7 linked regions of the Homo sapiens genome follow. The protein of the gene in region 4 purifies or fractionates together with the protein of the main gene of each other region. This does not show direct contact. Each region holds a gene or a part of one and is shown on either strand. Other genes may lie near its edges. The genes, in order: PPME1, TES, CNKSR2, ENSA, MTMR4, IREB2 and SCCPDH.

Evidence for each region.
Region 1: the proteins of ENSA (region 4) and PPME1 purify together in Homo sapiens (affinity purification with mass spectrometry; one large-scale study listed by BioGRID and IntAct). This does not show direct contact.
Region 2: the proteins of ENSA (region 4) and TES fractionate together in Homo sapiens (co-fractionation; one large-scale study listed by BioGRID). This does not show direct contact.
Region 3: the proteins of ENSA (region 4) and CNKSR2 purify together in Homo sapiens (co-immunoprecipitation; one large-scale study listed by IntAct). This does not show direct contact.
Region 5: the proteins of ENSA (region 4) and MTMR4 purify together in Homo sapiens (affinity purification with mass spectrometry; one large-scale study listed by BioGRID and IntAct). This does not show direct contact.
Region 6: the proteins of ENSA (region 4) and IREB2 purify together in Homo sapiens (affinity purification with mass spectrometry; one large-scale study listed by BioGRID and IntAct). This does not show direct contact.
Region 7: the proteins of ENSA (region 4) and SCCPDH purify together in Homo sapiens (affinity purification with mass spectrometry; one large-scale study listed by BioGRID and IntAct). This does not show direct contact.

The regions. Positions count from the first base shown.
Region 1 is NC_000011.10:74,174,289-74,177,788, forward strand, and holds part of PPME1 (protein phosphatase methylesterase 1), read left to right. Parts: intron 1-3,500. UniProt on the Homo sapiens protein: Demethylates proteins that have been reversibly carboxymethylated. Demethylates PPP2CB (in vitro) and PPP2CA. Binding to PPP2CA displaces the manganese ion and inactivates the enzyme.
Region 2 is NC_000007.14:116,213,539-116,217,038, forward strand, and holds part of TES (testin), read left to right. Parts: intron 1-3,500. UniProt on the Homo sapiens protein: Scaffold protein that may play a role in cell adhesion, cell spreading and in the reorganization of the actin cytoskeleton. Plays a role in the regulation of cell proliferation. May act as a tumor suppressor. Inhibits tumor cell growth.
Region 3 is NC_000023.11:21,373,060-21,377,222, reverse strand, and holds the start of CNKSR2 (connector enhancer of kinase suppressor of ras 2), read right to left. Parts: upstream 2,801-4,163; 5' UTR 2,326-2,800; coding exon 2,262-2,325; intron 1-2,261. Other genes in the region: uncharacterized protein LOC105373146, read left to right, coding at 2,801-3,240.
Region 4 is NC_000001.11:150,626,813-150,630,869, forward strand, and holds the start of ENSA (alpha-endosulfine), read right to left. Parts: upstream 2,801-4,057; 5' UTR 2,659-2,800; coding exon 2,602-2,658; intron 2,328-2,601; exon of another isoform or gene 2,294-2,327; coding exon of another isoform or gene 2,249-2,293; intron 781-2,248; coding exon 655-780; coding exon of another isoform or gene 520-654; exon of another isoform or gene 234-519; intron 1-233. UniProt on the Homo sapiens protein: Protein phosphatase inhibitor that specifically inhibits protein phosphatase 2A (PP2A) during mitosis.
Region 5 is NC_000017.11:58,497,639-58,501,138, forward strand, and holds part of MTMR4 (phosphatidylinositol-3,5-bisphosphate 3-phosphatase MTMR4), read right to left. Parts: intron 1-3,500. UniProt on the Homo sapiens protein: Lipid phosphatase that specifically dephosphorylates the D-3 position of phosphatidylinositol 3-phosphate and phosphatidylinositol 3,5-bisphosphate, generating phosphatidylinositol and phosphatidylinositol 5-phosphate.
Region 6 is NC_000015.10:78,441,216-78,444,715, forward strand, and holds part of IREB2 (iron-responsive element-binding protein 2), read left to right. Parts: intron 1-3,500. UniProt on the Homo sapiens protein: RNA-binding protein that binds to iron-responsive elements (IRES), which are stem-loop structures found in the 5'-UTR of ferritin, and delta aminolevulinic acid synthase mRNAs, and in the 3'-UTR of transferrin receptor mRNA.
Region 7 is NC_000001.11:246,737,909-246,741,408, reverse strand, and holds part of SCCPDH (saccharopine dehydrogenase-like oxidoreductase), read right to left. Parts: intron 1,238-3,500; coding exon 1,108-1,237; intron 1-1,107.

The sequences.
Region 1 (3,500 bases), on a different chromosome or scaffold from region 4:
GTGAGACCCATTGTGTATTTTGGAGTCATAATTGTCATCTGGGGATACTTATTTTGAGTTGTGTATCTTACTCATTTGCATATAATCTAGGATTCAGTCTTTTTCTTCAGTCGTAATTTATGAAGTCTCACACCAATTTCAAAGCATTCTTTATGTCTCCTTATGCTTACTTGCTTTTTTCTTAACTTCCATTCTTCCACTCTATCTATGTTACTCACAAGTTAGTCCTGTTCTCTTGATAGTCTCTTGTGTGGCTTACTCTTAACTATTTTTCATGATCTCTTGCCTTCAATTTCACTAAACATTATTTAGGCATGTTTGCATATTCAGGGTGCATATTCTGAGTTGGTGATTTTTCATGAGTTTCCATAATTCAGTTTTTCAGATTAGATTTAGTAATTCCAAAGTATTGTTGGATAATTTAATAATAGCAATTTTTAAAGTAAGTACTGTGTGCCAGACATTGTAATGGTAACTTTATGTTATTTAATGTGTCCACAGACCTGCATGGTGAATATTTTCCTGCATTGTGGGTAAAGACATTCAGACCCAGAGATTAAAAGTAACCCAACTAGTAGGTAGCAGAGCTAGGATTCAATCTAAGTTTAGTCTCTAGAATCCATTCACTTTTCAGTACACTAATATTTTCTCTTGGGTAAGGCCTGAAATCCTGGTGTCACTCTTCCTTTTAATAGATGCCAATGGATGTTGCCAAAAACAGTGGTTTTGAACTTCTTTATTAAAGCTTTTAGAGCTACTCTGACTAAAGTAGATTTGAGATCCCTATTTGCTTTGCACCCCTGGTGTGCTTGAGAGAAGTATCTTTTGAAAGTCACTGCTTTCGTATATACTATTACTATTAGAGGAACTATAAAATATTAAAGCCATTCATTATTCAACGTGTTTTTGGTTTATCAGTAGTTGTACTTTTTGGCCAGGTGTGGTGGCTCATGCCTGTAATCTCAGCACTTTGGGAGGCCGAGGCGGGTGGATCACCTGAGGTCGGGAGTTCAAGACCAGCCTGACCAACATAGAAAAACACCGTCTCTCCTAAAAATACAAAATTAGCTGGCGTGGTGGCACATGCCTGTAATCCCAGCTACTCAGGAGGCTGAGGCAGGAGAATCACTTGAACCTGGGAGGCGGAGGTTGTGGTGAGCCGAGATCGCGCCATTGCACTCCAGCCAGGGCAACAAGAGCGAAACTCCATCTCAAAAAAAAAAAAGTTCTACTTTTCTATTATTATCTCTTAAATTCCTTTTTTTTTCTTTTGCAAGAGATAGAGTCTTGCTGTGTTGCCCAGGCTGAAGTACAGTGGCTTTTCACAGGCATAATCTTGGTGCATTACAACCTCAAACTCGTGGGCTCAAGCAGTCTTCCCACTTCATCCTCTTGAGTAGGTAGGACTGAGGATACATGCTAGCATGCCCAGCTCTGTAGTGATTTAACTGACATGTATATAGTAGTCCCTTTTTATATTCTATGAGGTAAACTAGGGCAGGAGTTAATATTTTCTTTTAATAAATGAGAAAACTGAAATGTTCATTGACTTGCCTAAGATCACAGAATCATTATGTGGCAGGAACAACATTCAAACCCAGGACTTCGTATTTTTAGTCCATTGTTCTTTCTATAGCTTGCATTGAAGGGTTTGATATTTGAAGTGACAAAGATCTAAGTTTGAAGCCCAACTTAGGTATTTACATTGGTCGAGTCATTTAACTTCTCATAGTCTATTTTCTTATCTCTAAAATGAGAATACTTCTGCTTACCTGAGAGTGCTGTGAGAATAAGATAATACATAAAAAGCACTTATAGTTCCTGACACTGACACATAAGCTCTTAAAGAATGATAGCTAGTAGATAATTATACATTGAGAACTGTGAAGAAGGTTCATAGTTTATGTGGAAGCTCTCCTTTCAGTTTCTTATGTTATCAGCTTTTTTGTCCCCACAAGCTGTATGTTTATTCATATCTGATTAGATAGTCTTTCATCCATCTTCTTAAATTTATTATGGATATCAGGCCTCTTAGGAAGGCTTTAATGAGCTATTCACACAGATGGGGAAATAAAGGGCAAAGTGAAGTGATTTGCTCAAGGTCACAAATTGAGTTACTAAAATAATCAAATCCCAGTATTTCTGTTTTTTTTTTTATTTTTTCATTAGATTTTTAAAAAGTTAAATTTATATGCCATAGAATTCACTCTTTTAAATGTACAATTCAGTGATTTTTGGTATATTCACTCAGTTGTACAATTACCACCACTAATTGCAGAACATTTTCATCCTCCCATAAACTCGTTACTCATTAGCATCTTCCCTTCCTCCCAGCATGTATTGCTTCTGGATCTTGAGTCACAGAAAGGCTTTTCCTTTTTTTGGGTTATAAAGGAATCATTTATATTTTTTCCTGGTACCTGTGTAGTGTCCTTTTTTTTTTTTTTTTTTTTTTTGAGACAGAGTCTTGCTCTGTCACCGAGGCCGGATGGAGTGCAGTGGTGTGATCTTGGCCCACTACAACCTCCACTTCCCGGGTTCAGGCGATTCTCCTGCTTCAGCCTCCCAAGTAGCTGGGATTACAGGCATGCACCACCACACCCAGCTAATTTTTGTATTTTTAGTAGAGACGGGGTTTCATTATGTTGGCCAGGCTGCTCTTGAACTCCTGGCCCCAGGTAATCCACCCACCTCAGCCTTCCAAAGTGCTGGGATTACAGGCATGAGCCAATTTTTTTTTAATCCATTTGAAGTTTATCTTGATATGCAAAGTGAGGAAAAGAAGACATTTTATTTTTATCCAAAGGCTATCTAGTTGTTTTCATCATTTATTAAATTTTTTAGTCCTTTACCCATTACGTAAATTTCACTACAATAAAGAAATAGTCCTGGCCAGGCTCAGTGGTCCATGCCTGTAATCCCAGCACTTTGGGAGGCCAAGGCATGTGGACCACTTGAGCTTGGGAGTTGGAGACCAGCCTGGACAACATGGTGAAACCTCTTCTCTACAAAAATCACAAAAATTTAGCTGGGTGTGGTGGTGTGTGCCTGTAGTCCCAGCTACTCTGGAGGATCATTTGAGTCCGGGAAGCAAAGGTTGCAGTGAGCCAAGATAATGCCCCTGCACTCTAGCCTGGGACACAGAGTGAGACTTTGTCTCAAAAAAAAAAAAAAAAGTCTTCTTTCTCACTGATTAAAATGACACCTTTGTCATATGCCAAATTTCTATATAAATCCGGGTCTGTGGAGTTTCTTTTACGTGCCACTACTGTACTTTTAATTAGAGGATTTATTAATATGTTTTGATGGGTGGTAGAGGTTGTTTACCCCTCATTCATTTTGAGGATTTTCGTGGTTCCTCTTGTTTTTTTCTCACAAATAAACTTTCTAATCCCATAGACTAGTGCCAGAAAAAAATCCTGATAGTATTTTTATTGGGATTACATTAAATACAAACATTAATTTAGAATAAACGTTTTTATGATGTTGAATGTTCCTTG
Region 2 (3,500 bases), on a different chromosome or scaffold from region 4:
AATTCTTGGTTTGTAAAAGGAAAGCTCGTCCACATCAGTTGTACAAATTGGGATTAATTACCAGTTAAAACCCACCATCACAAAGACAAGGGGTTTTTATAATTAGATTTTGCTATATTTTGTTTTGTTTGAAGAAAGCGAGCTGTTGCTAGGATGTGGGAGCTAGTTTGGTTATACAAAGTTTTTGTTTTAATAATACTTTAGAACAGAATTGATTCTATGTCCTTGCCCTGTCTTCTGAGTTACACATCTAGACCTCTTTCTTATTTTTTAAGTCTCATCTTAATTGGCTTTGTGTCAGTATGGTCCATGTCTGCTTGGGAAAAACAGTGGACTTTGAGAAGCAGAAACAGTCTCATTTTGCGGTGAATGGTAAATCATGGCCAACAGCCAGCTGTTTTCCTCTTTCCTTTCTGTGTTACTCTCCCATGAGAAATATTTTTTTTCAATTAAGAACATACCAACAGAGAAAGAGAACTACAATAATTTCCCTTTTACTGCCTGGAATTGCTGCAGGGCTTTTTCATTTTACCGTGTTCATTTTTTCTCTCCTCTAACCCCTTTATTTTGATTAATCCTAATATTTTGCATACTTTTCTTAAGACTCTTATTTCTTTAATTTTACTTTTTAAAAATATGATGCATTTTAAAGATTACATGTTACTAAAAATCCCCTTTCTCTGTATCCAAACTTGTTTTCAAAACCTTTGTCATTAGCCAAAAAAGCATAGTGAAACCAAATGAATACTATTGGAAAAAGGACTAAACTACAAAGATTATTTCCATTGGAAATTAGAATGAGTTATTTGCCTTAGGTAGCCCCTGGTTGAAGTGGAAAAGGCAATATATGGTGACCTGGATGCTCAAATCTACAATTGCATTCCAGGCTTGAAGCCATTCTTGCTGCAAGAACCATTGGCAAGACTAAGGGTAAAGGTAGGGCAAGGCACATCCAGGGCTTTGCTTTAGAGGTGTTCTGCCTCTCTGAACAAGTGCAGAAGAAAATGAGTGGTCCTCGGCCAGGCTTTTATAAAACTATTCTAACCCATGGTGTGATTCATTACATTGGTAGAATATGAAAAGTCCCTTTCTCTTAATTGTCCTGAATATTGGTTGGAGAAAAAAACTATAGTAGGTTTTCTATTGATTCTGTTCCTTTATGCTGTCCTATGAAGTAGAAATAGGAATTTATATTGCTACTGGCTATTACCTATGTCCCATCAACTCACCCTATGACTTTGCTTGTGCATGCCCATACTCCATCTACAGTTCTAAATTTTTTCCATCCTTCAAGGACCAACCCTTCACACTGCACACTCCTCTAGGAAATCTTTCTCCATGCTGCCACCTAGATGAAAAATATTTTCTCCTTTTCTCCTGAATTCCCAAAACATGTTATTGGTAACACTTAGGACACTAATCACTCTCCACCTCTGGATTATACTTATCTGTTGTATGTTTCACCTTCTTACCTTGCTTACAAACTTCTTGAGAGATGAATCCATATCCTGTTACACTTACGTGGTTATTTTGTTTGCTGTTCAAAGCAACCTTAGGAAGTAGGCCTTAGCCCCATTTTCAGGATGAAGAAACTAAAAGTTTAGATAGCGTAATCTGAAACCTTACTATAGAGAACTTTACTATGAACTTGAACCATAATTTGAAGAATCCATGCTGCTTCCATCATGCCAACTAGGCCGAGTCTTATATTCTTCATCTTGCTCACTAAATATATGTGGAATGATAACTGTTATAAAAAGAGAAATAAAATAAGGTACATTTCAACACTTTCACTCATTTTTTAAAGGAATTATATTTGAGGAAGTGGTTTATATTCCAATAAAATCACCATCCTGCTAGTTTTCTATATTTTGTTTCTACTTTGTCCATGTTGTATGTATTCCCTTTAGTGTAAGTTGCCATTGACATTCTTTGGGCAGAGGCAAAGTATACGAAAAGTAAAAGTATTGTGAAAAGGAGTTTCTGGGAAACTTCTACAGTCAAAGAAATAGCATAAACTCCAATAATATTCTGTACCTTATCTTCTAAGATTCTCCCAACTTCCTGACTTTTGGTGTGAGCCAATGGTAATGCTGTCTCCTAACTATGTAAAATGGCCCTAGGTAACAGTGACCCTGTATTTGGCTCTTTGTTTTGTTAAGTTTAACCAATGGCATCTGGAACTATAAAGGGATGCTCGTGGTCTTTTCTCGTGTTGAGCTCTGCAGTTGAGAGAAAGCCTTACACATAGCATGAGTAGGCTAAACCTCTTTTCCCTTGTAGCAAAGTGTTCAGAGTGCCTCTGGAGTGGCAGACCAGACAGCTAAGAATGGAGCAGCTAAAAAGAAACAAAAAACAAACAAAAAACCTCTTAATATTGGGAGAACTATTTTTTTGTTTTAATTTCCCATTCTTCATGCAAAAACATTTCTTATGAAGCTGAGAAGCTGTGGGAAACACCAAAATGATCAGATATTTCATGAGGCTCTCATGGAGCTCCAGAGTGACATCCAGCATTGTTAGCATGCGATCAACATCATAGACCATCAGTGTGCAACACGAGTTACCAAGAGGGGCTTTCTTAGTGGAAAGAGAGTGATAAATTGGTAACATGGAAGCTACTTCCTGTGTTCTTTTTCTGAGAACTAGAAGAAGGAATACAAGTTGGCCCCATGCTAATGTGTATATACCTTTTTTACATACCAATCACTAGTGTGTTTAGAAATTAGGAAAGGTCAGTAAGTCTCCAGTATATATAAACATCTATAGTGTATGGAAAGGTCTTCCATAGTGTATCCGTTTTCTCACTTCCATTTATCAGTATAATATATTTAAAATTGCCCTAAGCTGAGAGTTGGTAGATCCGAGTCCACTATTTTTTGTGATATTAACCACTTTGGCTATCAATTTCTATTTATATAAAAATCAGTAGGGGAACCAGATGATTTCTGAGGTTTCTCCAAGTCCTGTGACTCTTTGATCGTGGGAAATAATATCAGTAGTCTACCATGTGTAATGTTCCACAGTGCTTTAAAATCACACAAATGAAGAACATATATGTATAAATATATACATAAAGGAGATGGCATAGTTTAAATGTTAGTGAATTCCATGAAGAACCTATAGATTGAACCAAATAATTTTTTTCCACAAATCTTAGCTATTTTCAACTTGTTTGTACTTAATTTTCATAATATTTGTGGAGGTATTTGAAGATATTAGGTTAAGTTTAATTAATTTAAATCTGTAGTATAAGGCTCTGAAGGCTGTAATAGTGTGGGTCCCATAAGTCTAGGAGTGATGTATTACTTACCTTGGTATTTAATTATGGGAAAATGAAAAATAATGGAACATTTATTTTCTTTAAAAGTTATCTCTCTCAAAATAAGGCTGTTAAAATAATTTTAAAAGATTAAAAAAAAACTATATGAGTGCTTTTTTACGTACCATGCACTGTTCTAGACTCTGGGGTTATAGTTGTGAACAAGAATGACACTGAA
Region 3 (4,163 bases), on a different chromosome or scaffold from region 4:
GAAATTTCAGCAGTAAGTAGTCTGGGATTTGAAATATACAGGTAATTATATCATTCATTCTCTTCCAGTCATATGTATACACGATACACAAACTATCTTGGCTACCCAATTGATCTTTTCAAATAGCTCTAAAATGCGTCACCAACAGGTATGAAAACAAGGTATTCGACTTACATTTAAAAAAAATTTTCAAATCACAGCTAACAATGTTAACCTAACTTCAAAGAAGCCACATTTTAGGCTGGAAAGATTTTTAAAGGACTGGTGTACTGGACAACTAATAATGTGTGTCAGAATAGGTGCATCATATATTCTACTTGCTTCAGTGGACCTAAACTATGGAGAGAGGGGAAACTGCAAGAATATAACTGGGAGGGTGGGAGGTGGAGACTGAGTATGCAGCACTCACTACAGGCATCATGGGAATTTGCGAAAGGTAGTCTATGAAGGTAATCAGACTCCCATGGAGCCAAGATAGCTTGTCTTTTAATATTTCAGCAACAGACTCAAACTAAAGTAACCTTTTAGACAAATTCAAAGAACGGGGTTTTAAGCATTGTTGCTTCCTGTATATACTCTGGCTCTTTCTTCCATCACTGAGAAACGGAGAAGGTGGAGAGTGAGGATAATTGGTGGGAATCTAAGATATTGGAATTTCAATAGCAAATACATAAAGAGAAAAAGCAGCAGCAAAGATGAGCCACTGCAGGACTTTGTCTTAGTCATCTTTATATCCCCCATGGCACCTTAGCACAATGCACTGCACACAGGGGTGCAGTCGATAAATAATGTATTAGGTTTAATTCAATTCACTCACATTTGTACTGCTTAGCAGTTACAAAGCAGTTTCCACATATTAGAAAAGAAAAGCAAAGTAAATGAGGAATAAAGGGGCAAGTAAGGGAATAAAAGGAAAGCAAAATAAAGAAAAATCCACAAGAATAAGCAAGCGGCCAAAAAGGCTGGGGAAAAGAATGAGCAAAAAAAATCAGTTTCTCCCTGTCACTCTCAATCCCTCCCAATCACCTCACCTTTCGTTCTAAATTATCTGGAGCTTAGAAAGTCTGACTGTTAAGTAAGCCCAAGAAGGGGCTCCTTCATCGTAGGAACGGGCATTTTCAGCGATAATAAGCCTTTGGTCCCTGACTGATCTACCTAGAGTTTGCTCAGGTATGACCTCGAGCAAAGCGCTAACATTTCCCAAGTGTGGCCACGCATCCTTTATTCCATTCCATCCCATCCATCCCCTCTTCAATTCCCAAAATCTTAGGGAAGAGTTGGGCCTGAGGATCCAAGGGGTTGGTGGGTGGGGGAGTCCTCTACAAGCCCCTTAACTCAGACAACAGAGGGAGGTAGTGAGACAGGAAAGCCCAGGGATCAGAAAAAAAGCTCACGTTTGCGATTAGGAGGGTGAGTGTCTATAACTGTGGTTATTATAAATCGCCAGGGACAAAAGGGGGAACCTTCAAGATGGAAGAAATGTGAAGGTACCTGAATGCGCATCACCTTACATCTGGCGTTGAGCCCTTAATAAAAAGCCGTGAGGTCCAAAACCTCGACTGGCTTGAAAGGGAGAAAGCAGAGAAGGCAAAGGATGCGAGGGGATGCGCTGGAGGCAGCCCAGAGACAGCAGCAAGGATGCTGTCCCAGGGGAAGCATGATGTCCTCACCCTCAAAGTAGCACATACCCCCACCCTGGGCATCCTCAGCCAAATCTGGGTGTGGGGGGATGCCAGGCTCCGAATGGGGGCGGCCGCGTCCTGACCCCATTATGTGGGCTAAAAGTTGCTTGGGAGAGTTGGCGCTGGGGAAGGCACCTGGCAAGGGCGGCCGCCGAGGGGGCGTCAGCTTTCCCAGGAACAAAGGGGCCAGGAAAGGGCGACCAGGGGAGCAGGTCCTGGGGGAGTCCACCCTGAGCTGGGAGATAAGGGTCGCCACGTCCTCCTGGCCCGGGGGCAGTAAGGGGAGAGGGGAGTACGCAAGATGCGCCGGTATTCTGCCTCCCGACTTCCTGCCTCCAACGGGGTGGCGCCCGCTGCCCTCTAGCTCTCTGGCCGCTCCGCGCCCCTCTAGCTGGAGACAAAAGGAGACCGGGGACCCCAGGCCCCTGCCAGTCCTGGAGGACCCCCGCCCCGACGCGTACGACGATCCGCCAGTGGAAGCCGCGGTGGCGGGCTCTGGCGCGGCGGGCGCCCCCTCCTAACCTCGCACTGGTGCCCCGCGCCCCAGTGCCGCCTCACCCTCCCCGCAGCGGGCATTACCTTTCATCCAGTCCACTACTTGACTCGGAGACCATTTGCTCACCGGTTCCATTATCAGAGCCATGGGTACGGGGTCGGTTCCGTGCAGAGCGCAGAGCTCAGACACAAAACGAACTCAGCAGCCCGAGCTGCTCTCAGGTGGGGTCCCTTGCTGGCCGCAGCCTCCCTGGGCGGGCGGCGCGGAGAAAGCGGCTTTTGTGTGTCGGGTCTCGCGGCTGTAACGTCTTTTAGCCAACCGCCGGCAGGAACGGCGACAGGGAGGTAAACGTGCAGGAGTCGTGGCTCCGCGCCGGGTCTGCTCAGTTCCCGCTAAGGCGGCGGCGGCGGCGGCTGCTGCTGCTGCTGCTGCTGCTGCTGCTGCTGCTGCCTCCGCCGCTCCGCTCCGGTCTCCGTCCCTAGGGAGCTTCAGTTCATAGCTTGAGTTGCTGAGGGGTCGCGTCGCCGAGGGAAGCAGCCTCTGCCGCACGCCCTCAGCCAACTTGCCCGCTCGCCTCACGCGCGGGAGTGAAGCCCCGAGCACGACTAGCTGCCCGGCGGAAATGACGAGGGGCCTCCTGCCACCCAAAATATCTCTCCGCAGCCCTCGGGTGCGGGGCGCGCGCGCCACGAGCCCCCCGCCCGCTCGCTGCCGCGCGGTCCCGCCCCCAGGGCCGACGGCAGGCGCGCGAGGCGCGTGCGCGTGCGCGTGCCGGCACGAGGCCGGAGCCCAGGGTCTGTCTGGCAGGCAGACAGGTGCCAGCAGCTCGCAGCCTGGCGTTCCCGCTCTGGGGGCCGTCCGGGAACAGAGGCGCGCGAAGTGCGCGTGCGCGGCGGCGGAGGCGGTGGCGGCGCGAGGCAGAGCCAGAGCCCGGGGTCGGTCAATCAGGTGCGGGCGGCTGGAGCATGGCTTTGTGAGGCCTCTGAGGGGACCCGGCGGTGGCGGCCACGGCGGGACGGGCCGCCCACCAGTTGAACTCCGACAGCTGAGGCGGCTGAGGAGGTATCCGCGGCCCCACCACCGAGGGGAGGGGGACACCACTGAGCGCGGGGCTTACAGCGAGAGCCCGGGCTTTCCTGGCTCTCGCTTTCGCCCTCGCCCTCCCCGCTGCTGAGTGGGCTCCGGAGGTGATTCCCGAGACCCGCGTACGCCTGCAGAGACGGAGGTGTGGACTGCCGTGGACGAGAACGGGGCTCCGCCTGCCAGAAGCGCAGCGATGATGAGGCAGGAGGGCTAGTGCTGTCGGATCTTCCCCGGGTGATGAGCGGGTCCTGGGAAGTCAGGCGTTGAGGCTGTCACCTGCCAGCTGCTGGTTGTGGTGATCCTGAGACAGGTTCTGCCCCAAGTACCATTTTAAAGGGCTCTGTTTCAGGTTTTGGGCCAACTCCTCTAAAGTACCTATTTTAGAGAAGTCATTTTGTGTTTGATATTCTTATATATTAATAAGAACCGAAGGGCAACAATGGGATTTAAAATGAGTGACAAATTGTAGACATGATTTTTCAAAACTCATTTTCTTCAAAAACCATACACAGGCTACTATGCAACGGTTAGTAAAATACAGTTTGCCTAATGAGGCTTCACTTTAAAAGACAAATATTCCTAGAGTGTAGATGCTAACTCTCTGCCACCGTTATAGGCGTTTTCTCTATCATTCTTAAATAGGTCCATTAAGTAAAAGAAACTTTTTAAATAAGCATTCCAGTAATGTCAATAGGTTTTGCCAGTTCCTATGGTAACCCATTTTCTCTAGTCCAATTTTATAAGATGCAGAAATGTCACGTTCTTTAACCGGCATGAGTTGACGACACCCTTCCCCCCCACACACACACACACAAACAGCTGAAACCACAGTAGTTAAAATATTGTGACGTTTTTAACTGCTGATTTCAATGCTAGTGATAGCGAACAAGTAAAATTTAAGA
Region 4 (4,057 bases):
GGATTACAGGCGTGAGCCACTGCGCCTGGCCAAATTTTTTTTTTAAAAAACGATAATATAATCCCTCAGTCAGCTTTAGGTACCTTTGGGAACTAAAAATCTGATCAGGAGCTACATGGCTATGAAAGTAGACTCTCTCTTGGTAAGGAGGACCACTCTGAACAAGAAAAATACATTTGCTGCAGGAGTATAATTAATGGCTGGTGCTCACTTCAAGGGTATGAAGAAACTGATTCATTTCAAGTTGAGGATTTATTTCTGTAGGAGAGATGGTTTGATCTTCTTCTGAAATGATGCATCCCAAAATTTATCTCTAATGCTTAAAAAGTGCACAATCCTAAAACCTCCAACATTCAAACAGGCAAATGCCTGGGGGCAGTCTGCATTTCAGTTTCTAACATCTTTCCCTCATTTCCCCACACACCCAAATGCTCCAATTTAGGCCTTAATTTCCTACATGGGAAATCAGGAGGGAATTGATACCACATCAGGGATTTACATTAATTTGACTTGCTCTTTTCAAATTTCAAATTCGCCTCTACTTCTGTTCAACAACAAAACCTCCAGAAAAGGATCCAGTAGAACCTCTACAGACTTCATTCGAAGAACCTCCTTTAGCTCCAAAGAAAGAGGGTAAGAGACTATGCCCCATACCCCTTTCTGGAGTCTCTTCATGAGGAAGTCGGAGCCTCCAGGCTTTTGTCCTAGGCTTGGGTATTTGGCCTTTAGCTTTGCCTCTTCAGCTCTCTCAGGCAGAATACCTTCTTTCTCCTGCGTGTCCTGGAGAAAACAAATGAGCCAAATAAAATTAAAGACTGAGAAACAACAGCTTCTCACATCTGATAACAACTATACTATCAACTTCTCCTGGAAATCCACCCACTTGTAAATACGCTATCTCTACTCTGCTGTTAAAGCTAGACCTTTGTTAAAATCCCTAAAGCTCAAGATGACTATTGTGAGAGAAAAAGACAAGCTGCTTCTCACACTTCACCCAAGGAACCAGCCAGGGACCTGTGCGTATTGGGCTAAAGGTAATACTAAACACAATACTTTAATCACAGAGTGGGCCATATCACTCAGCACAAATGCTAAGAAAGACAAAGAGAAAAAAGCAGGGCTTCTGGTGATAGAGGATGAGTAGCAGGGTTCCCTAGGCTATCCTACATGTCACATGAGAAATTAAAAAAAAAATAGTTTGGGGCTGGGAGCAGTGACTCATGCCTGTAATCCCAGCACTTTGGGAGGCTGAGGCAGGTGCATCACTTGAGCTCATGAATTCACTACCCGCCTGGGCAATATGTTGAAACCCCGTCTCTACAACAACAAAAAATAGTTTGCTAAATGTTTCCTCCTTATTTTTTTCTTTCTTTTTTAAAATTGCTACACGACAAAGCAGTTCCTTCTTTATTCAAGGTCTAAGCCACCTGTTAGGTCTCCCTGTGGAGGCGGCTAGCTATGTGGCCTTCTCCAAAGATCTCCACCTGAGTAATGGCACAGCCTTGCTTCAACATTTCCACAAATATTATGGTAGCAAGCTGATAAACAGAGAGGAAAATGATACTGTTTTTAACCTCAGGAAAACAAAGATACAGTAGGCTCACTAGTATTTACCCACCAGTTTTCATCAAAAAAATCAATACCTACCCTGGTGGTGCAGGGACTCTCACTACTGTAGTCAATCTCTTTTTTTTTTTTTTGTGGTCCCTGCTGCCCTTTAGTGACTTTTTGAAAAGATATGAAGTCAACGTATGACTCTTTTTAGTGGAATTATATTCCTTTCTCTTGGAAATTACGCATAGATATAACACCAAGTGTATTTAATGAGTACCTGAACCCAGTACTAAATTTTAAAAGTCAAATACAAACCCCAATAAGGGGTTTATTTGGCGTTAGTGTTTCCATCACGGAATCGCAGGTGCACTAAGTCCCTGCCTTGGAAGTCTAGGGGAAGAGAGAAGTGTCTTTCTCACGACCCTGTCGGCGTCTTTTCCAAGTTTAATTACCATGATTCTGTTTGGAACTCTAGCCCTCTTCAATATTGCTGGGTCCTCACTGAAGGTGAGCAATAGACCATCCTTAGCTACTAAAATAGGTCTCTTGAGAAAGTTGCCGCCTTAAACTAGCCATTATAATAACTACACTTCTCCCCTCCCCCAATACTGGTTTTTTTTTAAACGTCTTTACCTCGACCCCTATCTTTGCGGATTGAGGCTGCGGGCCCCAGCCCGGTTGCTGGGTCACTTACCTCTACAAACCAATAACACACATCACACCCAAGACCACCAGCCATCCCCTTTCCATTCACCGTCTTTCCAACCACCCGCCCCACGTCCATGCTCGGCCAATTATAGCACAGCGTCCAAGGTTTGAGCGGTAGGCCTATTGGCCAATCAGGAAGAGTACAGTACTGAGTGACAAACGACCCAACTAACCAGCGCCAAAGCAGCATGTCGTGTTGAAGCTCACCCAGCGTGACGCAAAAAGTGGCCAACCCCTGCGGAGCCTGAGACCATGGCGACCAATCCGCACTGGTGGGAGACCGTCTCCCGCCCCATCACGGTCTCCCCAGCTCGCCCGCCCGCACCCCTTCCACTTCACCTGCTTCTCCTCGCCGGTCTCCTCCGCAGGGTTCTCTTCTTCTTGTTTCTGGGACATGGCGGGACCGGGACTGTGGAGTGTAAGGGGCCCGGGAAGGCAACCGGAGAAGGGAAGGGGGAGGGGAAACGGGGACAACCTGCGCTGCTGCTTCGGCTCCTGTCACTAGGGTTGCTCAGTCAAAATGGCGGCCCTTGCCCGTGACGTTGCGACCGCCCCTTCCTATGAGAGCCAGTGGGAGTGAGGTAGATAGGGCAATGACGTAACGATCTACCAATAGTCGCCGTCTAAAGGTGGGCTCTATAGAGGCGACCGGCAAGCTGGAACACCAACCTGGAAAGAGAGTGAGCCACAAGGACCAATTGGAAGCCTGTGGGGGATATCGGGGGCGGGGCTGCTGGCTGTGGTACTTTTGCAGCTTTGGTGGGCTCCGGCTTCCTTCACTCCAGCCCACCGCGTCCGAGAGACTTAGCAGGGCGTCAAACTGGAGAGCGGAAGGATGGAACCTTTTATTCTCAGGTGGAGAGGATTAAGCTTTGCGGTGTTAGCAGAAAATGATCGAGCTCCAGAAAATGATTTGGAGGTCAGATTCGATTTTAAAGTAGTACTAACAGGCCGGGCGCGGTGCCTCACGCCTGTAATCCTAGCACTTTGGGAGGCCGAGGTGGGCGGATCACCTGAGGTTAGGAGTTCGAGACCAGCCTGACCAACATGGTGAAACCCCGTCTCTACTAAAAATACAAATATTAGCCGGGCGTGGTGGCGGGCGTTTGTAATCCCAATTACTTGGGAGGCTGAGGCAGGAGAATCGCTTGAACCCTGCAGGCGGAGGTTGCAGTGAGCCGAAATCGCGCCACTGCACTCCAGCCTGGGTGACAGGACGAGACTTTGTCGCGAAAAATAAAATAAAACGGTACCAATGGTATTACGATGTGTCACTTGGCCTGTGGAAGAGAGAGACTGAGTCTCAACCCGAGCTGTCTTGCAAAACACTAATGGCTTACGTTCCGTAGTTTCACTCTTATGTGTAGTTTTTATATTCCATCAGGGTGATCCCTTGGGGACTACGCTCCTTGAAACAAGGAGGACAGTGTAAGTATGTGGTAAACATTTGGTAAATACGGTTAATACTAGTTAACCTATCCAGAATTACAGTTTAACATTTCCTGGGCGTCTGTCTGTATGTGGATGGTACTGTGTTAGTTGGGGGGGGTACGTGTATAGTAAGGCAGTCTCTGCCCTTAGAAAGCTTACAGGCCTGGCTGGGCGCGGTGACTCACGCCTGTAATGCCAGCACTCTGGGAGGCGTAGGCGGGCGAATCACTTGAGGTCAGGAGTTCGAAACCAGCCTGGCCAACATGGTGAAACCCTGTCTCTACTAGAAATACAAAACAAGGCTGGGCACGGTGGCCCACGCATGTAATCCCAGCACCTTGGGAGGCCGATGAGGGTGGATCAT
Region 5 (3,500 bases), on a different chromosome or scaffold from region 4:
TGTCTTATTTGAATCCCCAGCGCCTAGCACAGTACCAGGGGCAAATGACTTGAGAAATGAATGAATGAGCTCAAAATACAACATGAGGTTTCCACTGCTAGGTGCCAATTGAATGTGTGATACACATCAGGCATCTTAGTGGATCTTCTTAGACATCCAGACAACCAGGGTCCACCCAAGACCTACTGAATAAGAATGGCCAAGAGTGGGGCCTAGGGATCTGTATTCTTTTAAGTGCCACAGCTGACTTCTTTCATTTTATTTTTTATTATGGAAACTTTCAAGCATACAAAAGAAGTAAAGAATATGCTGGGCACAGTGGCTCATGCCTATAATCTCAACACTTTGGGAGGTCAAGGCAGGCAGATCTCTCGAGGCCACAAGTCCAAGACCAGCCTGGCCAACATGGTGAAATCCCATCTCTACTAAAAATACAAAAACTAGCTGGGCATGGTGGTGCATGCCTGTAAACCCAGCTCCTACTTGGGAGGCTGAGGCATGAGAATCGCTTGAACCTGGGAGGCAAGAGGCAGAGGTTGCAGTGAGCCGAGATCGCACCACTATATTCCAGCCTGGGTGACAGAGCAAGACTCTGTCTCAAACAACAACAAAAAGAAGAATATAATTAACTTCCATGTGCTCTTCATCCAAATTCAAATAACAACATTCTGCCATCCTCCACAACTCATTCTATGTGTACCAAAGGTTAGTCAGCAATGTTGACAGAGATAATAATACCTGAGTTTACAACAAGGAGAGAGAGCTCATCCAGCTAGGAGGTCAAGGAAGGCTACAGAGAGAGGGTAGGATTTGAGATGGGTATAGAAGAATGTGTTTATGACTTTAATGGAAGAAGAAGAAGAAGGAGGAGGAGAAGGAGAAGGAGAAGCGGGGGAGGAGGGGGGAGGAGGGGGGAGGAGGGGGAGGAGGGGGAGAAGAAGGAGAAGAAGAAGGACATTTTTGATCTAGGGAAAGGTAGAATCAAAGGTAAGTCAGGTCAGTTGTTACAGAGACCATTTCCTTTAAAATCTTTATACCAATTATTTCTCGAAATCTACTCTCCATCTTGAGCTGCCTACAACACACCTCCTTCTTTGCTGTCAACTAATATTTCAATCCCAATTTCCCTGTATCTCCGCTTTCTCCCCAAACTGGCTGGTCTTCTCGACCTTTCAATGTCTATTAGTGGTACTAATATTCTCCTACTTTTTAAGCTCAGATACTTGGGACCCAAAGTACTTTTCACTTCTACTCTCCAACTTTCAATTCTGTAGCCTGCCAATGGTTCTCTACAGTGCTTCTGAATTTAATCCTTTCTCTTTGCCAGGGACTCTTCCCCTCATATCTGAACTACTACAGCAGTGCTGGCTGGTCTCTGTGCCTCCAGCTACCCTGTACTCACTGATTAGTTCTCCAAGGATCCCACTGTCAGCAGACCACAGTAACTTCCTACAATGACTTCCTATTGACAACTGAATCAAAATAAACTCTTCACTGTAATGTTTAAAGCCTTCAATGCCCTCAATGACCTGTCCTATATTTCCACTATTCCTTAAAATAGCCCCTTCTCAACCCCTGCCAGCCACAGAACTTCTTTTTTTTTTAAAAAAAAAAAAACTACCTCTCACCCAGGTGCAGTGGCTCACACCTATAATCCTAGCACTTTGGGAGGCCAAGGTGAGCGGATCACTTGAGGTCAGGAGTTCGAGACCAGCTTGGCCAACATGGCGAAACCCCGTCTCTACTAAAAATACAAAAATTAGCCAGGTGTAGTGGCACACACCTGTAATCCCAGTTACTCGGGAGGCTGAGGCAGAAGAATCACTTGAACCCGGTGGGCGGAGTGAGCTGAGAAGATCATGTGACTGCACTCCAGCTGGGCAATGGAGCGAGAAAACCCTACCTCTCATGTATCCACTTGCTTTGGACCCCTCTCCACTAACCTTGTTACTGAGCTCACAACTCCCTTTATTTCATTCATTTGTCCAGTTTTTTTTTTTTTTGAGACAGTCTCACTCTGTTGCCCGGGCTGGAGTGCAGTGGCGCGATCTCTGCTCACTGCAAACTCCGCCTTCCCAGGTTCATACCATTCTCCTGCCTCAGCCTCCAGAGTAGCTGGGACTACAGGCGCCTGCCACCACGCCCGGCTAATTTTTTTTTTTTTTGTATTTTTAGTAGAGACGGGGTTTCACCGTGTTAGCCAGGATGGTCTTGATCTCCTGACCTCATGATCCGCCCGCCTCGGCCTCCCAAAGTGCTGGGATTACAAGCATGAGCCACCACGCCCAGCCATTTGTCCAGTTTTAAGTAAATTTTTACTTTAGTAAATTTATTTAAATTTACTTATTACGTGCCAGGTTCTAAGCCAGATACACAGAACACAAAAAGACCCACAGTTCTTGTCTGGTCCTTCATGAAAATTTCCTGAGTAAAACAGCCACCAAGTGACCCTTTTAAAAAACACATCATTTCTCTAAAGCTTTGAACTACACACATTTGTTTTTTTGAGACAAGGTCTCGCTGTGTCACCCAGGCTGGAGTGCAATGGCATGATCACAGCTCACTGCAGCCTCAACCTGCTGGGAGCAAACAATCCTCCTACGTCAGCCCTCCAAGTAGCTGGGACCACAGGCGCACGCCACCATGCCTGGCTAATTTTTGCATTTTTTGTAGAGGTGGGGTTCTACCATGTTGCCCAGGTTGGTCTCAAACTCCTGGGCTCAAGCAATCTGCGCACCTTGGCCTCCCAAAGTGCTGGGATTACAGGCATGAGCCACTGCACCCAGCCTGAACTACACACATTCTTATCTGCTTAGATGTTGACTTAGAATTGTTCTCTAGTTGGCCGGGTCTGGTAATCCCAGCACTTTGGGAGGCCGAGGCGGGTAGATTACGAGGTCAAGAGATCGAGACCATCCTGGCCAACATGGTGAAACCCCGTCTCTACTAAAAATACAAAAAACTAGCCAGGTGTGGTGGTGGGCACCTGTAGTCCCAGATACTCGGGAGGCTGAGACAGAAGAATCACTTGAACCCGGGAGGCGGAGGTTGCAGTGAGCCAAGATTGCGCCACTGCACTCCAACCGGTGACAGAGCGAGATTCTGTCTCAAAAAAAAAAAAAAAAAAAAAAAAGAATTGCTCTCTCTAGTTGTTCTGTGTCTTATCTTACAGCTTAAAATTATCTTGAAAGTAGAACCAATATCTTCTATTTCTTTGCTGTAGCCCACAAAACCTAGTACAGTAATACGCAACTTGTAGGTATTAAAGAAACATTTGTTGAATTGATAAATCAGATACTAAGTTAATGAAATGATTATTAAATGGGTCACAGAGCTTATTAAAAATTTGATTAAAAGTTATGGCCCCTCTCCCAGGAAAAGTAAACCTATGAACCTGTAGCCAAATTCTGCATAGTTTGGGGAAGGAAAAAAAAAATCACTGAAATCCTGAAACCTATCACGGTCCCCTCACAATGACTTAGTTCAAAAGACCCTAAAAC
Region 6 (3,500 bases), on a different chromosome or scaffold from region 4:
AATTAGGCTGTCATTTAAAAATAAACAGTTTGCCAAAATGAGAGCAATATCCTTTACCTTGCATGTTTAGCTGCAGTGATTTGTGTTGATACGTTTGTTAAAGGAAGTTGGTCATTTTCTTAATGTATGTCTTTCACATTAATTTTATCCCTTCACTGATGGTGAGTTTGCATTAATTTTGAAAAGAAACAGCTAGATTGATCGTTTACAAGAATAGTCATTTTATTTCCCATTTACTTCTCCAAAATAATCTAGTGATACTGGCTTGGAAGTCTTTTAACCCAAATTTCATAGTTTAATAAATTAAAGGAGCACATAAGATGTTTTGAAAATTGAGTATAAATACTTTCTGTGTATAATCTGTAGAAATGTGCTTACTTGAAGGAAGATGACCTAAATTTCTCAAATTTAAGGAATCAGTAGGAAACTGTCAAAAACAACTGTAAAATGCATTGAAAGGGAATGATTGATAATCTGAAAGTTAAATTTTCCCTGGGAAATAAGTTGTCATGGGAATTTGTACATAACTGTACAGAGTACATGTGTACTTAACATAATTCCAGAATTACCAGTTTTTATAACCATGATAAATGTAATAATAGAATACCTGTGACTATAAATACTTTCAAAACAGAAAGTTGGTTTTTATGTGGGGTCAGTACCCTGGTTTTTATTTTATTTTATTTTATTTTATTTTACTTATTTTTTTGAGACAGGATCTTGCTCTGTCACCCAGGCTGGAGTGCAATGGTGTGATCTCAGCTCACTGCTGCCTCTGCCTCCTGAGTTCAAGCGATTCTCGTGCCTTAACCTCCCAAGTAGCTGGTACTATAGGCGTGCATCACCACACCCAGCTAGTTGTAGAGATGGTGGTTTTACCATGTTGGTCAGGGTGATCTCAAACTCCTGACCTCAAGTGATCCACCCACCTCAGCCTCTCAAAGTGCTGGGATTACAGGAGTGAGCCACTGCGCCCAGCCCCTCCTGCTTTTTTAATAGAGTGCTTATTATGAGAGGTTATTAAGTAATAATTACTTAAGTAATTTCCTAATAAGGAATAAAATTTGAAGAATTGACTTTGAAAGAAAGGAACAAGTTAGGTAGGAAGTATTTGGTTGTTTAACCTTAGAACAAAAAATCCTTATTGCATTTTTGAAAGGATCAGATTGAATTGCCTCCTAGACATATGCTTACAAGAAGACATTGCTTTGGTAGTCACCAAGGTACAGAGCCAGTCTTCTCCACCTCCATTCCACATTTTGATGCCTGCTAGGTTGAGAATGACTGTTGTAATGAGTAACGATTAATGAAGGGAATGGATTCTATCCCTCATAAATGTTACAGAGTAAAGATAGTTGAGAAACACTGTTCTAAGCTCCATGCTGACTATGTCAGGGATGCCTGCAGCTGCAAAGAACTGAAAACTTGCTGTCCAATGACTTTAAGAAATACGAGTTTATTTTTCTAACATAACGAAGTGTGGAGATTGGCAGACTGGGGCTGTGCAGCACCAATCTCCGCAAGGATCTAGGCTCGTCCTTTCTTCCCGTTCTGTTTTTATTCTTTTGGTTGCACCTCCAGGCATTATGTCCAAGTTAAATTTTCCCTGGGAAATAAGCTGTCATGGGAATTTGTACATAACTGTACAGAGTACATGTGTACTTAACATAATTCCAGAATTACCAGTTTTTATAACCATGATAAAAGCCCTCTCCAGGGGCTTTTGCCTCTTTGGCCAAAGTATCAGTGGCCACTCTTAGCTTCAAGAAGGCTGAAAGATGGAATAATCAAGGTCTTCTCTTACTCATGGGGGATATGTTCCAAGACCCTCAGTAGACACCGGAGACTATGGGTACTACCAAACCGTGTATGTACTGTTTGGTATATATTTTTTTCTATACATACATAGCTATGATAAAACTTAATTTATAAATGAGGCACAGTAGAGATTAATAATAACTAATAATAAAATAGAACAGTTATAACAATGTACTGTAATAAAAGTTATGTGAATATGGTCTTTCTCTTTCAAAGTATCTTATTGTGCTGTTCTGCAGGTAACTGAAACCACAGAAAGCCAAACCATAGATAAGATGGGGTACTGTATTTTACCTTTACATCTTTTACAATAGAGAAAGGAAAGGGAGAAGTGGTTGGGAGTGGGTGGTGAGTGAACCAGCCTAATCTATCTGCGTTACCAACCTGATGCCTTCTCTTATTCTGACTTTAGATAGAGTTCAACACAGATTATTTGATTTCTGCTTTTTTACTGCCATTTTATCCTTTTGCTTCCCAAATTTATACTCAGGGTATCTCTATGGAAGTGGGCACATCTTAGACATTGATTACATTTTGATCTTGTATGATTTTGCTTGTGGGGAATCTCCTTTGTTTTTTTATTTTTTGTGGGGTTTTTTTTGTTTTTTGTTTTATTTTGTTTTGTTTTTTTGAGACAGAGGCTCGCTCTGTTACCTAGGCTGGAGTGCAGTGGCATGATCTTGGTTCATTGCCACCTCCATCTCCAGGGTTCAAACGATTCTCGTGCCTCAGCCTCCCAAGTAGCTGGGACTACAGGTGTGTGCCACCACATCCGGCTGATTTTTTATTTTTAGTAGAGATGGAGTTTCGCCATATTAACAAGGCTGGTCTCAAACTCCTGACCTCAAGCAGTCCTCCTGCCTTGGCCTCCCAAAGTGCTGGGATTATAGGCGTGAACCACTGCACGCAGCCAGTTGTGGGGAATCTCTTTAATATTCTGGAGCTGGCTGTCTGGCACTCCCAATGTGCTGACTAGAAACATGTCAAAATCTAGGTAGTCTCAAAATGTAGATTTTGAGTAACTCTTTAAAAAAAAAAATTATAAAGATGGAGTTTTACTGTCAACCTGGCTGGAGTGCTCTGACATGATGATAGCTCACTGGAGCCTTGAACTCCTGAGCTCAGGAGATCCTCCCACCTCACCCTCTCAAGTAGCTGATTTGGGTGACTCTCTTAAGTAGATCTCTGAATTTGAAACTATTGCTATTTTTAAGGAGTGGAGAAATCAGTGGTGTCTCCATGTATGATGGAGGACAGTTAACATCAGAGAATTAGAATGAACAGCATAATGGAAACATGAATGACTATGTTGAATGAAGGGGAAGATGGTGGAGAGACTGGCCTGGCTGGAGTGAAAGGTAGTTTTGAGAGAGTACCTGTTACTGGGCAACAGGGCCTCTGGTGGTGTAAAGCCCCCAGGCACCCTTTATCTCAGGTCATCTTATTCACCCTTTCTTTTGTCCTTCCTGTCTGCTTGCCTTTTTAACCACAGTACTGCTTAGTCCTCCAGTAGAGCCGGGACTTAGTGTCCAAATCCTACCTTGCAGCCTTTGGAAGAAAATCCTGTATTTAATTTTTTAGGAGAGTTTTTATCATTTAGAAGAATCACAAAAAGACAAGAACATTGCAGATGGTACAGAAAGTCTCATTTTTATGTGTATACAAAAATATATGTAAATATG
Region 7 (3,500 bases), about 96 Mb from region 4:
GGGAGCACTGCCTGAGCCCAGGCATTCGTTACGGTGAGCTACGGCAGAGCAAGATCCTGTCTCTTAAAAAACTTTTTAAAATGGCACTGGATTAAAATTTTATATAGTATTTTCTTTTTACTTTTAATTTCATAAGCAAGATTTGTAGTTTGTGTGTGTGTGTGCTATCTTTGTTGGACTTTGGTTTCATAGTTATGCTAACTTTTTAATATATGCTGGAACATTTTCCAATTTTTTAAGTCTAGAACACTTTATATGGTACTGAAGTTACCTGTTTCAGTTTTGTTTTTTGTTTTTGTTTTTTTGTTTTTTTGCTTTTTTCTAAGAGACAAGGTCTCACTCTGTAACCCAGGCTAGAGTGCAGTGGTGCAATCATAGCTTACTAAAGCCTCAAACTCCTGGGTTCAAGTGATCCTCCTACCTCAGCCTCCTGAGGAGCTGGGACTGACTACAGGTGTGCACCACCACACCTGGCTAATTTTTTTTTATTTCTTAGGGACGAGTCTTACTATGTTGCCCAGGCTGGTCCTGAACTCTTGGCCTCGAGAGATCCTGCTGCCTCAACCTCCCAAGTAGCTAAGATTATGGGTGTAAGCCACCACACCCTGCTCAGGTAATTTTCTAAACCAGACACTCTTAAATATGCAAAACATCAGTAACTTCAAATGTTTTATCGTAACATTATTTTCTCCATTCTTAAATAAGTGTCTCCAATTCTGTGTTCAATACTTTCTAGCTTTGACGGTTAAAAATTTAAAACCTTTTAACTATAATATACAAATTATGCTTTAAAATGTGCTGATTCCTAAACAAAGCAAGTTTGAATTTATAACGTTGCCAAAGTTGTTTTCCAGAAATTTTACAGCCCAAACTATACTGAGACAATAATATATCACTGTAAAATACAGTATTATCCATGTCTCAACAATAGTCTCAATAGCATTTTATTAAAAGTGCAGCTATATTAAAAACAAAACATGTGTTTAATATTACCCATTTATGGCTATGTTTCTTTTTTCAACTAGATTTTAGTTCACCACAGTTAGAAACATGAAGCCTTTGCACGGTACTGTTAAATTCCATTATTGCTTATTGATCAATAATTACCATTCATTTTATTTCTGGTATATATTACTCCCAGATCTGCTGGAATGGAGTCAAAGCCGCTGCTTCCAATGATATAAACCCCTTTGTCTGCAGCTTTCTCATGATACTTCAGTTGCATTAGTTCCAGAAACTAAAAAATCCAGGATAAGAATTTTAATTAGTTATGCAGAAAGATGTAGACCAGTATTAAATAATTTATCTTTAAAAACAAAGCAACCAAACTTTGAAAATGCTAAGCAGTGTGGCTCTGCAGCAAAACATTAACTGTCAAAATATTTTCCACTTATTCGGCAAATACAGCGCCTACTGCACACCAGGTGGTACAGAAGTTGTGCTCGTCTGACTGTATGACACTTAATTTTTTTAGAATGACTTTTAAATATAAAAGTAATGCCTATTATAAAATATTAAAATATAAAAAATAGAAAGCAAAAAAAAAATGACCCCAAACAGCATTACCCAGATGAACATCATCACAGACATAAAGCTCCGCACACGTACAGACAGAGAGCAGGAAAGTAGATGGTGGCAGAGGGCACAGGGGAATAATGTCTGCTCTGCTCTTCTGCCTGTTTTTAGAAATTCCTTTTTAAAAACAGTTTAAGATTTACAGAAAAATTGAATAGTAGAGAGTTCCCAAGTACTCTGAAACCCAGTTTTCTCTATTTTTAACATCTTTTACATGAACAGTGGTTACAATTAATGAACCAGTACTGACATATATGATTTAATTCACTAAAGTTCACAGTTCATTCTGATTCCCTTAGTTTTAACTGAACCCCTTTTTCTGCTCCAGGATCCCATCCAGGATTACATTCGGTTGTTACGTCTCCTTCGGCTTCTTTTGGCTGCGACGGTTTCTCACACTTTCCTTGTCTCTGATGACCTTGATGGTTTTGAGGAGTACTGGTCAGGCATTTTGTAGAGTGCCCCTCTACTGGAATTTGTCTCATGCTTTTCTCATTATTATTATGAGTTTTGGAAAGAGACCACAGGGGTAAAGTGCTATTCTTATCATATCATATCACATCGGGGCTACGCACTGTCAACATGATTTACCAGGGTTAATGCTGACTTGAACACCTGGCTGAGGCAGTGTTCACCAGGTTTCTCCACTGTCAATTTATGCTCCCTCTCCCAGAAGGTGACACACAAACACAATCACACCTGTTCAAGCACATACCAGACACAAACACACACCACACACACCCATTCATGCACATACACAAACACACACGAACACAATCACACACACACACTTGCTCATGCACACACAAACACATTAAGTCACACTAACATAGTCACACACATACAAACACATTAACACACTCAGTCACACACACAGCTGCTTGCACATAAATGTGGAGAAGCTACATAAATCATTTGGAATTCTTCCACAAAGAAGATTTGTCTCTTCTCATCCCTGCCTTTTTGGTTTTGTTTTGTTTTGAGACGGAGTCTCGCACTGTTGCCCGGGCTGGAGTGCGATGGTGCAGACTCGGCTCACTGCAACCTCCACCTCGCGGGTTCAAGCGATTCTGCTGCCTCAGCTTCCCGAGTAGCTGGGTTTACAGCACCTGCCACCACGCCCAGCTAATTTTCTATTTTTAGTGGAGACAGGGTTTCTCCATGTTGGTCAGGCTGGTCTCAAACTCCTGACCTCAGGTGATCCACGTGCCTCGGCCTCCCAAAGTGCTAGGATTACATCCCCTGCCCATTTTTAAAATAAATTGTCTTTATTTCTATTATTGTCTTGTAAAAGTTCTTTAAATACTCTGGGTTTTTTTTTTTTGAGACGGAGTCCCACTCTGTCGCCAGGCTGGAGTGCAGTGGCATGATCTTGGCTCATTGCAACCTCCGACTCCCAGGTTCAAGCGATTCTCTTGCCTCAGCCTCCCAAGTAGCTGGGACTACAGGCGTGCACCACCACGCCCAGCTAACTTTTGTATTTTTAATAGAGATGGGGTTTCACCATGTTGGCCAAGATGGTCTCGATCTCTTGACCTCGTGATCCGCCTGCCTCGGCCTCCCAAAGCACTGGGATTACAGGTGTGAGCCACCGCACCCAGCCCTCTGGTTCTTTAATAGGTTTGTTGTTGTTGTTTTGAGACAGGATCCGACCCTGTTGCCCAGGCTGGAGTGCAGTGGCGCAATCTTGGCTTACTGCAACCTCCAACTCCTGGGTTCAAGTGATTCTCATGCCTCAGCCTTCTGAGTAGCTGGGATTGCAGACGTGCACCACCATGCTTGGCTGATTTTTGTATTTTTAGTAGAGATGGGGTTTCGCCATGTTGGCCAGGCTGGCCTCAAACTCCTGGCCTCAAGTGATCCACCCACTTTGGCTTCCCAGAGTGCTGAGATTACAGGTATGAGCCAACGTGCCCAACTCCTTA